2 separate regions of the Homo sapiens genome follow, and region 2 is linked to region 1. The links come from fine-mapping of genetic effects on gene expression. A gene starts in region 1. The other region holds a variant in brackets. All regions are shown on one strand. Distances are between the middles of the regions. Region 1 holds the start of TBC1D14 (TBC1 domain family member 14). Region 2 overlaps TBC1D14 (TBC1 domain family member 14).

Region 1 (2,500 bases):
GATATGGGTTGGTACTGGCCAGATAAACTGGGCAACAGGAAGTGTTCTAAGACTGCTGTAAGGACTAGCCCGGTCCAGACAAAGCAACCACCAGTTTCCAACAGGCAACCCACCGCTATAAAAGCTAGGCAAGACAGCAACTAGGTGCCAACATCCTACAATACTGGGGACAAGACAGTGAGCATTTTGTCCCCAAGACACCACCACGACTACCCTCCTCATCTAGCCTCAGTGCGTGAAATAACCAAGGTGATGCCCAGGGACCTCCAGTAGGGGCAAAACGCACCGGTGCCTATAAAACCTTCCCAAGCAAAGCTTCCAATTCCACGCTAGAGAAAACGGCGTCCTATGCAACTTTAGGACAGAAACGACTTCACGTGGCCTGGTCAGGCGCGGTCACCCCGGGGCTCGCAGAGGCTGGCTCTGGAGTCCACAGGGTCATTCTCCTATCCTCCTGACCAGCTGTTCCCATCAGGACCGCAACCCACAGCCTAGAGAGACTCCTGGCGGGAGGGAGACCAGGAGTCCCCGGACTTACTCCTCAAGGCAGCTACCCCGGCCCCGAGACAGTCCCCGGGCCAGGGTCTTCGCGGCCCGGTAATGGGAGGCTCCAAGGCGGAGGCAGAGAGATTCCCTAGCCCAGGGACAGACGGTTCGCGTGGGTGGAGGTCCAAGGAGGTCAGGGCTCCGAGATGAAAGGGGGTTTCGCGGGTCAGGGGCTCCAGGGGTAGAGGGGTCAGAGATGAAAGCGGGGTCAGGGGCTCCAAGGAGGAGGGTCCGCTGCCTGGGGACTGAGGGTCCGAGGTGGAAGGGGGCTCCGGGGTCGGGGTCTGGCGCACCGAGGCGCCTCTTCTCAGGCCGGGAGCCTCGCGTCGGAGTAGGAAAACTTTTCGTCAAGTTCCGTAAAGGAGCGGGACACAGCGCGCGCCTCCGCGAGGGCCGCCGAGTCCCGAGAGTCGCCCCCGCCCCGGAGGCCCCGTAACGGCACCCCGGGCGCCACGCACGCGCTGCCCTGGCGTGCAGGAGCCGCGGCCGCGCGGCGAGGGACACCCAGCAGGACCCGCGCCCGGCGACCTGCCTCGCCCCGGCCGCTCCCCGCCTCGGCCGGCGCTGCAGCAGGTGGCGGCCCCGCGCGCCCTGCCCTCCCTCGCGGCCCGCGGCCCGGCCCTCGCGGGAGGCTCTCAGTACCGGAGTTAGCGCGGCTCCGACGCCATCCCCGGGACCCGTGGGCCCGCAGCCCAGGCCCCGCGGGACCGGCAACTCGCGCGACGAGGACGCCGGGCACGCGGTAGGCAGCGGGTCCGACCCGCAGGTGCGCGCGAGCAGCCCGCGGCGAACAGCGGCGCGCACCCTCGCTTCGCCCCGCCCCCTCGCCCGCCCCCTGGGCACGCCCCCACGCACTTGCGCCCCGCCCCCTGCCGGCCCGCGCCCGTTCTTCCGCCCGTGCCGCCGCGTCTGGAGCTCGGCGCTCGCCCGGCTGTCCCTCTTCCGGGGGCCGCCCGCCGCGGGCCTCCGGAGCGGCGTCGCCGGCCCTTTTTTTTTGCCGGAGAACCAACCGGAGTGGCGAGGAGCTGCCTTGAGCGGGCCTTTGTGCCCGCAGGGCCCCCACGGACATCCGACAGGGGGCCCCTTACCTGGTCGGCTCCACCCGCAGCCATCTTGGAAGTGGGAAGCGGCCGGGAGGGGGAAGGGGCTCGAGCGGGCAGGGCTCAGGCGTAGGGAGCCGAGCGGCGGAGCGCATCGATGGGGCTCCCCTGCCCCGGCCGGTGTGCGGGAGACGGCCCGGGCCCCGCCGCGGAAGGGAAGCTTTGCGTGACACCGGAGCTCAGGCCCCGCCGCGGTGGTCTTGGGAGCGGCGCCGTGGCGTCCTCCCAGCCAGCCTCAGTCTCTTAATCTATAAAGGGCTTTTCCGAACGTTCTCTCTTATCGCGCTGTGACACGGTGCCTGGCGCTGTAGTTCCCAAACTGGTCTGCACTTTAGTATTGCCTGCGGAGCTTTTAATATTCTGAAGCCCAGGCCGATTAAGTCACAGTCTCTGAAGATGAGATGGAAGCATCATCAGTTTGGGAAGCTGTGTAATGTGCACGCGGGTTTGGAAGCCACTGGCCTGGCGTTATCTGCATATTTGGCCTCAACATTGCACAAACTCCAGAGACGGGATCTATGATCAGAGCCATTGTACAAAGCGGGAAACGGGCTCAGAGATGAAGCCCTCCGCCCAAGGACCCGGGTGGGTCAGTAGCTGAGAGGGGCAGAAGCCAGGTTCCCTGCCCCAGAGCCCTCCATGAGCTGGTAGAGAGTATGTGAGGAGCCCCTGTTGACGGGCAGTGGGTCTCCATTCCCCTTCTAGGCTGTGGGTTCCATGAGGAAAGCCGGGCTTATCTTGTTTACTGCTATTTTCCCTGGGCCTGGCAAATAGTTGGTATTTGACGTTATTGGGTTGTCGTTAGACTCTGGGGACTTGAGGGCAAGAGGAGAGACCCAGCGCTGGGAGCCAGA
Region 2 (3,007 bases), 79 kb before region 1:
GCTCTGGGCAGCTTATAAGGAATCACGCTGGGAAAGACGAGACCATACCAACATGGCAGCAGCACCTCACTAGCAGCCAACTTGTGGGGTGTGGTCTGATGACCCAGCTAAGGTTGAAGAAAAAAGGCAGGGAGGCAGGGTGCCTGAGCAGAGCCCCAGTCTCATGCAGAGGGCTCTGCATGAGACTCAGCATGCAGGGCAAGAGGGAAGGGGCCATGTGGAAAAGAGGAAACTAATTTGTGAAGGGACCACGCGGGCCTGGCAGTTTAGGAGATCCTCAATCTCCAACCCAGCAGGGCTCACTCGACAGGGGCAATACGATGCAGGCAGAGGCTCCCACACAGGTGAGACCGTGAGATGTGCCAGGAGGGGCGAGCCACACACTGTGGGAGGAAGGGCAGGATGCCTGAGGCCAGGGGGACATGGGAAGCTTTCACAAAGGGGCCAGCTGAGTGGACAGACAGGTAAGACGTGGGCTAGAGGCCAAGAGGAAGAGGCACTCTGACAGCAGAAGCAGTGGCCAAGAGACACCCACAAGCAGGCTAGCACCAGGATTTGAACCGGGAATGGTGCAGAGTCAAAGTTGTTTTGCTCTAGATTTGAAGGTCTCAACACGTTACCCAGAGGTGCTGGGACAAGCCCCAGGAGAGAGAGGAGAGCCAGAGGAGAGACTATGAGGTATGGGGAGCCCCTCAGACGCATCCAGGGGCAGGGTCTACATTCCACGTGTGATCTGCACAGTGCTAAAGACAAGAAGGGCACGAGGCTCCTGAATTAGGTTTAACGTTTGTTGGTTTAAAAAGCGGGGGAAAAGCCTGCTTCAATGCACATTTGTTTTAAGAGCGAAAAGAAAGGATCATGATTCTCAAACAATGAAGAAGTATTCCTAAGCCTGGCACAGAGGTGCTGTGCCTGTGGTCCCAACTACTCAAGAGGCTGAGACAAGGATCACTTGAGCCCAGGAGTTCAAGGTTGCAGTAAGCCATAACCGCACCAGGGCAACAGGACAAGACCCTGTCTCAAAAAAAAAAAAAAAAAAAAAAAGAAAGAAAGAAAGAAAGAAAAAAGAAAGTACTCCTGGTAGAAAGACAAGAAAGGTCATCAATGCTACTTATGAACTGGAGGAACACTACAAAACAGCCAATGATGTCAATAACCTGCTACTGGAAGCCCCCTGACTTCCAGGAAGGAGCCTCTGGCTCCCTGGAAATCTATTTTACCTAGAAGAGGAAAGGGTCATCAGTCAAATCCTGTGCTTAAATCTCCGACCCCGCTGTCTGCAGTATCAAGATTCACCAGTGAAAATAACCTGAGGATTTGGGAGCGCGCCTGGAATAAAGCTGCCAAGGCAGGCTGGCCATCCGAGTGGTACCTATCAAAAGACTGACTTGAACTAATGCTGTGACAGCACGGCCACCACATCTGCACAGGCTGAGGACCCAGGGAAGCGCTGGGGGACAGCGGCAGGCCTGGTCTGAGCCAGCACCACCAGCAGAATGACCTTGAGCTCCTCCTCCATCCACAAGCCTGTTTCCTCATCTGTTACACTTGAAGATTAAATGAGAACCAGCATAAGCTGCAGAGCCAAAGCAGGTGCCCAGAAATGATAGGAGTATGACTGTCACTATATACTATGAAATTACTCTTCACAACATTCCACTCTAAGAGGGTTGCTTGTGGAAAAGGGCACGAAACTGAAAGTGTCCGCAACACCGCGGCTGGTCTCACACTTGGCCATTTGTAAAAGCAATTGTCTTGGAGGGGGGAGCCCAGTTTAGCATCTGGGAGGGGCTGTTTTGCCATTTTGAGGGGGAAGAATGGCCTGCACAGGTCTTAGAAAGGTCCCACCTTCCAAAAGGCAG[C/T]CCCGGCTAACCCCTGAAGCCTGACCTCACAGTAAGTAAAGCCACTGAGAACATCTGAGTGGTTCCTCTGGCCTGGGTTCTTTAACAAGCTGCAGTCCCCTCCTGGAAAGCGTTCTCTAAGTTACTGGGAATGTTGGCATTCTGGGAAGCACTCTCAGGAGTCCTTTTCTAATAGTCATATTCCTCCCAGAGCATCAAAAGTTAATATGCGGGCTGGTGAATGAAACATATTCAAAGGAACTAGGTTTTAACACGCCCGGTTGCTGTTGCAACCTGACCACCTCATTGGGCTCTAGAGCTCGGAGCGCAGTCTCATCTCCATACAAAGGCTCATCGGATCGCAGGCGAGGCCCTTCTGACCTCTAAGGGGGCTGCTGGGCCTGGCCCGGCTCTGAAAACAGGGTAAGGAGGACTCAAAGGACGTGCTCGCTCACGCTGTCTCTCGTCGTCCTAGTAAACGTGAACCAGAAGAAAATACGTGGAAACACAGACACAAAGAGTACCAGGGAGGAGAGCGCATCAGCAGCATGCACAGCAAGCTTCGGCTGTTGAGGACAGATACACGTGATGCTCGCACACCCGCACAACCGCACACATGCACACTCGCACCCTCCACCTGCGCGGGGCCGCAGGGCTGGCAGGCCCAGGACAGGACAGGCCCACGGGACCGGGCAGGCCTGGGGCGCAGGGAGAGGCACCGGCCCGCACCCCGACTCACCATGAACGCCGGGGCCTTAGAGGCGCGCGGCCGGAGGCTCCATGCCCAGCGAGCGGAGGGCCGGCCTCCCTCCCTCCCTCCCGGACCGCGGGCGGGCGGGCGGACGCGGCGGCTCCTCAGACTCGCGGGGCGGGGCGGGGCGGCAGGCCGCTCAATCGCGCGCAGACACAGCGAGGCGATCCGCGCTGCCGGCTCGGCGCGTCAGGCCTGGCTGGAGACTCCCAAGGGGGCGGGGCTGATGAGCGGCGAGGGGCGGGCACAAGGGGCGGGGCTGGGGCGTCCCCGTGGTACGGCCCCACCGGCCGTAAACACCGGGGACGCGCGCCGACAGGCGGAGAGCCAGCTTCTGCCTTAAAGATCACCCGAGAGCTGAGAAACGTGTTGCCAAAAGAAATTGCACAAAAATAGTCGCACTAGTGAGCTCTGG

Evidence for each region. PIP is the estimated chance that this variant, and not a neighbour inherited with it, causes the effect.
Region 2: its variant is fine-mapped to the expression of TBC1D14 in whole blood (INTERVAL, PIP above 0.99).

What each region holds. Positions count from the first base shown.
Region 1 is chr4:6,908,640-6,911,139 of GRCh38, reverse strand. TBC1D14 (TBC1 domain family member 14) reads right to left here and starts at 1,314. Exons shown (of 14, transcript NM_020773.3): 1 at 1,189-1,314. RefSeq lists an enhancer at 578-647 and a silencer at 888-1,947.
Region 2 is chr4:6,986,923-6,989,929 of GRCh38, reverse strand. All of the region lies in intron 3 of TBC1D14 (TBC1 domain family member 14), which reads right to left. Among named protein-coding and RNA genes, the nearest start is that of CFAP184, 55 kb to the left of the region's middle. RefSeq lists enhancers at 2,304-2,353, 2,459-3,007 and a silencer at 2,454-2,863. The variant C/T (reference allele first, on the strand shown) is at 1,863.